2 linked regions of the Homo sapiens genome follow. Each later gene encodes a partner of the first gene's protein in a complex. Each region holds a gene or a part of one and is shown on either strand. Other genes may lie near its edges.

The links. Proteins that work in one complex are often made in the same cells at the same time.
Region 2: the proteins of TAC1 (region 1) and TACR1 are in contact, whole or in part, in a cryo-EM structure (PDB 7P02), measured with the Homo sapiens proteins. Residues at the interface, in NP_003173.1 of Homo sapiens: Lys60, Pro61, Gln62, Gln63, Phe64, Phe65, Gly66, Leu67, Met68; in NP_001049.1 of Homo sapiens: Gln24, Phe25, Asn85, Asn89, Tyr92, Ala93, Asn96, Trp98, His108, Asn109, Ile113, Gln165, Met174, Arg177, Val179, Cys180, Met181, Ile182, His197, Val200, Phe264, Phe267, Phe268, Tyr278, Leu279, Ile283, Gln284, Tyr287, Met291.

What each region holds. Positions count from the first base shown.
Region 1 is NC_000007.14:97,734,659-97,741,618, forward strand, and holds the end of TAC1 (protachykinin-1 isoform beta precursor), read left to right. Parts: intron 1-167; coding exon 168-191; intron 192-1,640; coding exon 1,641-1,694; intron 1,695-5,215; coding exon 5,216-5,262; 3' UTR 5,263-5,814; downstream 5,815-6,960. UniProt on the Homo sapiens protein: Tachykinins are active peptides which excite neurons, evoke behavioral responses, are potent vasodilators and secretagogues, and contract (directly or indirectly) many smooth muscles.
Region 2 is NC_000002.12:75,045,963-75,049,520, reverse strand, and holds the end of TACR1 (substance-P receptor), read left to right. Parts: coding exon 1-89; 3' UTR 90-3,058; downstream 3,059-3,558. UniProt on the Homo sapiens protein: This is a receptor for the tachykinin neuropeptide substance P. It is probably associated with G proteins that activate a phosphatidylinositol-calcium second messenger system.

The sequences.
Region 1 (6,960 bases):
TATGATTAATAATTTGTTTAGCATTTATGGTTCTGCTTTATTCCTCAGGATAATATATAGATAGAAAATGTTACATATTTTGAGAATCAAATTATTTTATAAAAGATATAATGTAGCATCTTTAAAAACAAATCTATATGTGTTTGCTAATTTTATCTTTCTTCTAGGACATGGCCAGATCTCTCACAAAAGTAAGTTCAAAATTATTTTGACATTTATCAAATTTAAATGTAAAATTATATTGAATTTCACTTTATTTATCTTACCTTATTTTCTGTCATGACTCTAGGGCTTAATATGTTTAATGAAGACAATATAAGAATGGGGGAGATTCATATTACATCCAGAATATGGTTGTTTAGACATATTGTACTTAGCAAAGAGATGCATTATATTAAAAAAGAAAAAAATGTCTTTTAAGTCCCTTCAATTGTTAGTTTTAGAGAAGAATTTCAATCCTAGGATTAGAAATCTACCATACATATTTCTTCCCAGCCACCCACCCCCTAAGCTTACTTTCACTGTAAACAAACAAACAAACAAACACGAAACCCCCACAAGCATTTATAGGCATCTCCTAACTCATTTTAGTATGCTTGGTCCAATAATGATGTCATTTATTAGGGTCATCCAGCAGCCAATTAAATGGAATGAGTGAGTGAACATGAGTAGAGAATCCATACTAAAAATGAAGACGGTAGAGATGCAGTTTTTTAATCCCCTAATTGAATGGGAAAACTCGATCAGTAAAACATTTCTTAGGGCAGCAAAGATGGCAAAATTGTGGTATGTGAAGGTCATTAAATTTGTTTCTCAGTTAATGGAACCGGAGTTGACAAGAAGTGGAAAGGGTCTATCTTCATCGTATTGTCCACTCACCTATTGTACCCTGTCATGGATTTGGTTCATTGGGTGGCAGAGCAGGCCACATTAACGTAGCAGCTCTATTCTCAACTATTAAAATAAAAACCAAGAGAAATTCTCTCACTAGCATTAAAATAGTAACCTTTCCAAAGAGTTCATCTTTGAAAAATAAATAGTATTCATATTTACTTTCTAAGGATTTGACTTTGAAGAGAATTATATATAAAAATTCTATGTAATAAAAAATGTACTCTGTTCATGTGAAAACTAATAAACTTTTCTGAAAGGAGTATCTTTTAATATCCAATAAAATAAAAACAGTGACCTTTTAGAAGATTATAATCATCAAGGAAAGGAATCTGGTTTAATTAAGGTCTACTTGCTGAGAAGTACAACTTATTAATAACACAAGGAATTATGCTTGGATATTTCACTCTCACACAAATGTGAAATTGACTTCCTAAAAAATCAAACCTAGCTCAAATAACAATATTTTATATAAAATATTTTAGACCCTTACATAACAGATAAAATATATGAATAGAGAGTGCTTGCTAATATTAAATATAGAATTAAGAAAAGTGGTTTCATTGTATTGTTTTAGTGTAATTTATAAAACTTTTAAGGAATCTTTATTTCTTCAGTCTCACCAAAACTTGAAGTAGATAGATATTTATTATACAGACATATATTCAGAAGCTTGCTTTGTTCTGGTTATAATAGTTTGTTTCCTCAAAGATATACATATTAAAATACCCCTAAATGTATTTTTCCAGGACATAAAACAGATTCCTTTGTTGGACTAATGGGCAAAAGAGCTTTAAATTCTGGTATGTATGAAATTATGACTGAAAATAGACAGTATCTCAAATCTATTTCTATTTTTTCTAAGACATAGTTTTAAAATATTAAAAAGGAGTGGTAGATATAAAAATGAGTATTATGGTGGAAAAATTTAATTGTTGTACTTGTAACCACAAATGGATTTATAGCTGGTTAAGCTAATACTACCACAGTATCTGTCTATTTCTCTCCAATCACCATTCTTACCAGTGTCTGCCCCATTTAATCATTACCAACCTGAATCTTTGGGTTAGTGCTATATTCTTTCCTATAGATCTGTTAAATAAGCCGTGTTTAACCTTACTGAACTAAGGGGGAGTGGGGAGTGCAGGGAAGAATGAGGGTGATTTTCACTTGTTATCAAAGTAATTTGAAAGTTTTACAAGACATTACATTTGGCGATCTTCCAATACAAAAATAAATTCACAAAACAAATTCTTTATGCAAATTAATCACTTTTTATGAAGTTGTAGAAATTCAAAATCTAAACATCCTGATGGATGTTGGAGAGGACAAAAGTGATACGGTTTATTCCAGTACTTTCAAAAAGGAACACAATTAAATATCCTTGAGTGTTATAAATTGGTTCTGGCTATAAACTCCTTAGAGAGAAAGGATGCCACAATTCTCATTTTAATTCTGAACAACTTTTTCGTATGATATAAAGGCTGCAGGTTTCCTTCTCTTCAATTTCCATCTTCTTTGTAAATACCACGTACATATATCTGAAAACCATTATTAGTTAACTCATTCATCACACTGATTTCAATGTAAATAACCCCTAGATCATTTTAATAGAAGCTCACTTTTTGTTAAGACCTTATAGCTCTTACCTCTAGGGCTTCTTGGAAAAGCTATTCAAATTCTATTTTGCCTTCAGTGAAAATAGAATTAAAATACTAAATACGTTATTAATTATAAAGTAATCAGCAGCTGTCTTACCCATTTAGAATATTTCCAGTTTCTAGACAATCTATAAGATGTGCTGGCTTAATCCTTAATTATCTGGATCCTAGGAAAAATAATTATCCTAGTGTTTTTTAATGGAGATTTTTTTCTTTATTGTGAAATGTAAGACTTGGGTACATTAAATAAAACCACTTTCTGTGGGGCAAAAATCAAAACGCGCAATAGAAAAAAAAAGTTAACACAATCTGGGCTACGGCAGAAGCCAGAGAATATATTCATATAATTGAAAAGTTCTAAGTGTTTCATAATTGACCTTTTGATACAAAATTTCCAATAAATCTGGAATTTGAAGTTCTTGGTGAAGTCCACAGGACTTCCTAGTGTTCTTATTGGGTCCCCACTTTCTATTTAGACACTACCTTTGCATCTTCTCACCAGTCATTTTGGGCTGCCGAAGTGTAAAAGTGTAAGAAATTATCAATGTGCCTTAATGAAAAACTTGTAATTGTTTTATTAATATGTATTATCTTCCCACTTTTGGAAATGAAATATAAATTTAAACCACAATGGCTTTTATTTGTACCAATACATACTAGTCCTCACTTAATTGTAGTTTTCTTGATAATCATATTAGTCATCAACTTTCCATTTCCAGAATTGATATAGGTTTCAGAACATGCTTAACTTTACAAATGTAGATATTGTACAAGTTAGAACAGATTAAATACAATTAAATGTACTTAAAATAATAACATAATTTTAAGTAGTGATAAAAATCACTGTAGTGAATCAGGATCAATTTATAACTAAATCTTTGTTCCTCCATTTTAGTTAAGGAAATATAAATAGGTGAAATGTGGAAAAAAATGTGATATGATCCACAGTCAATCAGGGATCTTTTTATGTACCTCATTGAGGCAAGGTTATCATAGCCTTAATCTATAGCCCTCTGATCTTTACCCACTCATGGTCAGGGACCCCTTTGACAATCTGATAAATCTAGATAGATGCCCTTTCCCAGAGAAACCCTCATCAGCTCATACACTCAAAAATTTATATCAGGCTTCAGAGGGTTCAAAGACCAGGTAAGAAACTCTGCTTCCATGTAAGAGGACATTATGTTCCAGCTAAATCACTGTCTGTCTTTAGTTGGTTTACATTAGCTTTCATCTAATTTCTCTGAGGAATAGAGTCATGTTACCTAAAGCTTGTCAGAGACTGAACTTGGGCCATTCATCCTGTTCCTAATATAATCAAACCAGAATGAGAAATAAACTGTTTCCTTCCCTCACGCCTGTCCAGTGTTGGCTCAGACTGTTCTGCCTCACAAGTGCATACTTAATTGATGTAAAATATGCAGCTTATTGTTAACCGCACTTAAAGGATAGCTGGGTGTTTAAGACCAGTATTAAAAGAGGGAAGTGATAATACTGGTGCCTTTACCTGTCTTCTCTGTCAGCAAATCTTCTCACTGAGGAAACTGTTTAGAGTAGCACTTATTATTCCTACAGATCCTTCACAGATCTTTCTACTCTTTCTGTTTACATTCAGTATTTTATACAGGCCATACTGAATTTCAAAAAGCATAGTAGTTCCACTATACCATACGTCTAAGTCTATAAGGTATTCGTTAAGGATGAAAAATATCCCAAAATACTTTTATTGCAACAGTCTGATTTTTACCCCTTTGTGGTTACAGATCCCTTTGAAATTATATATAATAAATATAATATAATATAATATACAATTTTGGCATTTTTTTGTCCAGATAATCAATGTATTTAAATTACTTGCTAGCTATATGTTAAATACCTTTGGAAGCAATAATTAATGCTTCACAGGCCATTAAGGTGCTAGTGAAAAGTTAAACAGTATGGTATTTAGATGGCTCAACTGACTTACCTATGGTAAATGGGCTGTTTTTAGTCTTGAGGGCAGTCCATCACTGGGAGGTATCCACAAGGTAGGAAGAGACCCCTACACAATTAGATGCCCCTTGAACAAAGATCAGCAAACTTTTCCTGAAAAGAAACAGATTATAAATATTTTAGGCTTTGTGAGCCATGTAATCTCTGTTGCAACTACCCAAATCTGTTATTTTAGGCCAAAGCAGCCATAGACAATATGTAAATGAATGAGTGTGTCTGTATTCCTATAAACCTCTTTACAAGAACAAATGGTATTCTAGATTTGGCCCATGGTCTCTGCTAGAATAAAAGTCCCACATTTGGTTTTTATCCTACTAGTATTCCTGGTTATTTTAGGCATTGTCCTTTCTAGAATTCACTATGGGTATCTGCCACTGCTTGAGAAAGCTGCTGAGAATCAACACTGCAATATATTGTGGAAATATGCTTTGGGGGCACCAAGTATATGATGAATGATGAATGAAACCGAGTTCTGTGGTTAGATCATTTCCAATCAGAATAGAGACTGAGGCAGGATTGGAAGATGTGCAGATAACATTCTTAGAAATACTTCTGTAGAGGGAAAATGTCATTATGAGTTTAAAATAAATTACTATATGCCCTGAACTTTAGTTGTGTAACTCCCTCAGTGAATTCACTTAAAAAACACTTTATCTCTTCTTTGTTTTCAGTGGCTTATGAAAGGAGTGCAATGCAGAATTATGAAAGAAGACGTTAATAAACTACCTAACATTATTTATTCAGCTTCATTTGTGTCAATGGGCAATGACAGGTAAATTAAGACATGCACTATGAGGAATAATTATTTATTTAATAACAATTGTTTGGGGTTGAAAATTCAAAAAGTGTTTATTTTTCATATTGTGCCAATATGTATTGTAAACATGTGTTTTAATTCCAATATGATGACTCCCTTAAAATAGAAATAAGTGGTTATTTCTCAACAAAGCACAGTGTTAAATGAAATTGTAAAACCTGTCAATGATACAGTCCCTAAAGAAAAAAAATCATTGCTTTGAAGCAGTTGTGTCAGCTACTGCGGAAAAGGAAGGAAACTCCTGACAGTCTTGTGCTTTTCCTATTTGTTTTCATGGTGAAAATGTACTGAGATTTTGGTATTACACTGTATTTGTATCTCTGAAGCATGTTTCATGTTTTGTGACTATATAGAGATGTTTTTAAAAGTTTCAATGTGATTCTAATGTCTTCATTTCATTGTATGATGTGTTGTGATAGCTAACATTTTAAATAAAAGAAAAAATATCTTGAAGATTTTTGTCACATGTCTTTTATTAACATTTATGTCCAATTAGCAATCTTTCCTTTAATAGGTGAAATAGGTTCAAAGCGGTTTTGTCTAAAATGCAGTTTCTCTGTCATGCACTTTTTTTGCTAAATCACTTGTCATGAGATCATTTATGAAGAACACAATTGCATTTTGCATTCCAAAGAGTAAAGGCTAAGTTCTGGTTTTATATGCTTTTAATTCCTTTTTACAAATAGGATAATAATCTATTTCAAAGATATATTTCACTGATTATTTTCTTGTTGAGTAAAACATCAGCTCACTACCATTTCAGCCCTGCTCAGAGCCCAGGTATAAATGCATCAGTGCCTGAGTCTCACTAGCATTAAGATAGCAAATCAAATTCTCACAAAGATTGTCGGAAGATGATACAGGAAGATGAGGTGTTGATAATAGGGCAACACCCTCACAGCAAAAATAAGAACTCCTTTCCAGCATTTCTAAGAAGTGCCTGTGAATTGCTAATACCTATAACACTCTCTCTGTCTGATAGAAGCACATGCGTCAGGAATAAATACCAAGCATTGAGAGGGAGGCTTGTGCATTTTGATTGATAAGTGTCCTTGGAATCATTTTCTGATTGCATAGAGCATGTGAAGTATTGACCAGTGGTGAAACAATGCAGACAAGCACTGTTCAGTGAAGTAAAAAAAATGAATTTAGCCTGGACTGGTGACTGTTGGTGAGCAATAAAACCATTTGTAGGAGAGAAGAGCTAAAGCATATTTTAACATACATATTTTCAATTAAATGTTTTTTTAAAAAACTCCAACTCATATTCCTTAGTACACAATACATCTAAATATGAAAAATTATATAATGGTAAGCAAAATGGAGAAAACCAGAGTCATCCCCTAGAGCCCCACTCCCCAACAGCAATGTTTAACATTCCATTGAATAATAATTATAATAAATAATCATTAGCTAAAATTATATATGTACTTAATCACTCAATGACAAAAATAATCGTCATTATTATCATTTTACAGATGGGGTTATGAAGCTTAACAAAATGCTGGGGTCAGAGATTATAATAGGAGTCAGGATTGGAAATAAACTGAGGGGGAAATAGAGCAAATATCTAACAATGAAATTGATTAAGCAAACGTA
Region 2 (3,558 bases), on another chromosome or scaffold:
CCCTGGACCTGACCTCCAACTGCTCTTCACGAAGTGACTCCAAGACCATGACAGAGAGCTTCAGCTTCTCCTCCAATGTGCTCTCCTAGGCCACAGGGCCTTTGGCAGGTGCAGCCCCCACTGCCTTTGACCTGCCTCCCTTCATGCATGGAAATTCCCTTCATCTGGAACCATCAGAAACACCCTCACACTGGGACTTGCAAAAAGGGTCAGTATGGGTTAGGGAAAACATTCCATCCTTGAGTCAAAAAATCTCAATTCTTCCCTATCTTTGCCACCCTCATGCTGTGTGACTCAAACCAAATCACTGAACTTTGCTGAGCCTGTAAAATAAAAGGTCGGACCAGCTTTTCCCAAAAGCCCATTCATTCCATTCTGGAAGTGACTTTGGCTGCATGCGAGTGCTCATTTCAGGATGAATTCTGCAGCACAGCTGCGGACCCGGAAGACTCATTTTCCTGGAGCCCCGTGTTACTTCAATAAAGTTATCTCAGATTAGCCTCCTGCAGCTGGAGGCTCCTATCACCCCAGCCTACGCTTGACAGGGTGAACAAAAGAAGGCACCACATAACATCTAAATGAAAAATTTAGCCCTGTCTTCTAAGCATCTGTGAAAAGAAACATATGTATTCCCCTTTTTGGCATCTCAGTATTTCAGTACATTTATACATCATGAGATTGAGAACCTCGGGCTTCCACATTATGTCCCCGGTGACTGTCCTGAGCAGCCGACGCAAGCAGAATATGTCCACTGATACCTGCTAGTTCTCTTACAGACCAGGAATTGGGAGACTTGCACTACATTTAATGTGTAGTTGACCCTCTTTTCCTACTTGTAAACAAGGGGACTGAACTAGATAATCTAAGTGTTCCTTCGAATCTTAACATCCCGTGGTTCAAGGATTGTATGAGTTTTTTGTTTGTTTTACAAAAAAAAACAAAACGAAGAATAAAAGAATAGAAAAGAATAGGAGCAGTGAGTCTTGTAACTAATACCCAGTTCCTGGAGATGTAGCAACTGCTAAGGCCATCTGTAACTATCCATCTCAGACATTCTCCGATTTATCTTAAAATCCTGAGTACATTCCTTCTCATGGAAGGTTTTGGCTTTTGACAGAGCAGAGGACTTCATGCCAAGGCCTGCATCCATCCAGCTTTAGCAGGCAGAATTTCATAGCTGCAGAACACTGTCAGAGAAGACAAATGTGGGCTCCCTGCTTTAACCTTTTGGGTATTTTAGGGTGGGGGCCCTAACCTTCATTCTTAGTTTTACACTAGCATCGTGCTCATATGTGCGACAAGCAAGAAGGCTGCACTTTGCAGCTGCACTTCTGGGAAGAGGGCATCTTGCATCTTCCCTTCAGACTCTCTGAATGTCTCCTCCCTGCTCCATGGCTTTGCCAGCTTCCTGTCTCTAAGGGGTAGAATGACTCATCAACCCTAAAGGACAGTCAGTCTTCCAAGAGCCATGAACTGAATGCTTTATATCCTAATTTAGATTTAGAGTTTCCAGAAGGTGAGCATGCAGTTTTGTTTTGTTTTTTTTTCTGTCTCCCAAATCTGTGTTTTTTCCAGATATGGCTGGAAGCAGAAGCTTCATGTAACATCCATGAATGTCCTCCTGGTAGTTTGCATAATGGATGCACATGTGCCGCATCCATAACATTAAGGGGAGAATAATGCATGGTTTACAGCCTTTGCCAGCCCTGCTGGCTCTAATTCTACCAGGGCATCCACAGGCCTGGGGGAAGAAGAAACAGTATAAGCCAGAAAACCTCAAGAACTACATTCTCTAAAGCAGCATGGAAAGTTTTAAATAAACTAAGTGAAGCCAGATCATTGCAGATATATAAATGGAAGACAAAATTTAGAAGCAACAAAAGTTAGTGCCCTAAGCATTAGTCATACTTCCAATAGAGAATCTTGCTGTGTATGGATTACTCACTTTGGAAGAATGTAAAGAGCTAACATGATTATGAGAAGTACCTGAGAAGATGGTGTCAAGAAGTTGGGGACACCCCATCTATGGAAGAGAAGGTTAGAGTTGAGCTCAACGAGGATTAACTGAGTGCCTCCTCTGGACTTTGCCCTGAACTGGGAACACACAGCCCCTGCAGCTCTTGAAGAGCCTACCTTATTGGCCATCACTAACTAACTCACCAGTCCTAGTGAGTCTAAGCTGCCCAGCAGTCTTGGAGGCATCTGAGAGGACAGATTCTCCACAGAATTCTAAAAACCCACACTCAACATGGGCAGTCAAGCCAAAGACTGGGACCTTTGGAGAGCCTCTGGAATGAGAGTTCTCTGGGGTACTTCCAAAGGGAGCTGGCAGTCAGTCCAGGGGACCTAAAGGAATTTGGTTGAACAGTATCATCTCTGTGCATAGTAAGAGGGAATGTTGGGTGGTCCGGGCAGTTTCCAATATGGCAAAGCATCTGCTTGGACAGTGCCAGCAAGCCTTCCTCTGACCCAGTCTCCAATGTCCACTAACTTATAAAAATGTCATCAACTCCCACATGTAAGAAACACCATGATTTGTACTGTGCATGGGTCACATTCTTATTCTAGAAATGCATCACCCTGTGTTTATCCAAGTGTGTTTACTTGGTGTAATGTCCAGTAGTAATAGAATATGAAATATCAAGGAACCATCTTTGTTACGTGACTTCCAAAATGTGAGATCTCATTGCTGTCACTGTGATATTTGTATTGTGTGAATCTCTTCCTCCTCTTCCTCCTCATGCTTTCTCAGGGAGGAGCCCTGATGTATATCATGAACTCACAGTTCCTAGACCACAGTAATTGAGGGGCGGTGGGGGGGCCTTTATCGGAGAAGCTAGAGAACAAGAGTCCTTCTCCTCCTTATCCCCCAACAGGACACTAAGAGACAAGGACTGAGTGGAATCCTGGAGAAAGGGGACTCAGGAACTGACCTCATTGGCCTGATTTGTGAGGAGAGGAGTATAAGTGGAGAGGGGCCATTCCTGAGGTTTCCGTGTTTTCCAGCCTGGTCTCCTGGAAAGAATCTTTATACAGAAATAAAGTATGTGTTTCACTCTCTCGTGCCTCTGTCTCTTCTCTAGGGGTCCTAAACATCCTATAGGATGCTAAATGGGATGGTACTAGAAACCCTAATAACTTGCATAGCTAGAAGGATGGAATCAATGTTCAGTAAACTCTTAACTCTGTGATGAAATGGGTTGGGAAGATGTGGGAACAGTTCCCAGGTTGAGATCTGGGAAGGGAGGTGGGATTATGCGAAATGACAGTGATGTTGCCTATGAATAAAGCTGTGTCAGGATGCAGACACAACAGAGTTATAAGCACAAGAGTTTTCGTAGGACAGGAGGTTGGGGGGAATAACATCTGAGAAAGACAAAGGGGAAAGAAAGCAGAAGTACTCAGGGACAGCCTTCAAACCACCATGCCAATCTGACACCTGGGAAAAAAGGGGTGGTTAGGAAGAGCCTCAGACTGTGGTGCAGCTCCCAGCCCAACACGTGCAAAGATTGCCCAGAGAGACATTGCACGTTAACAGAATGGCCAGGCCTGATGCCC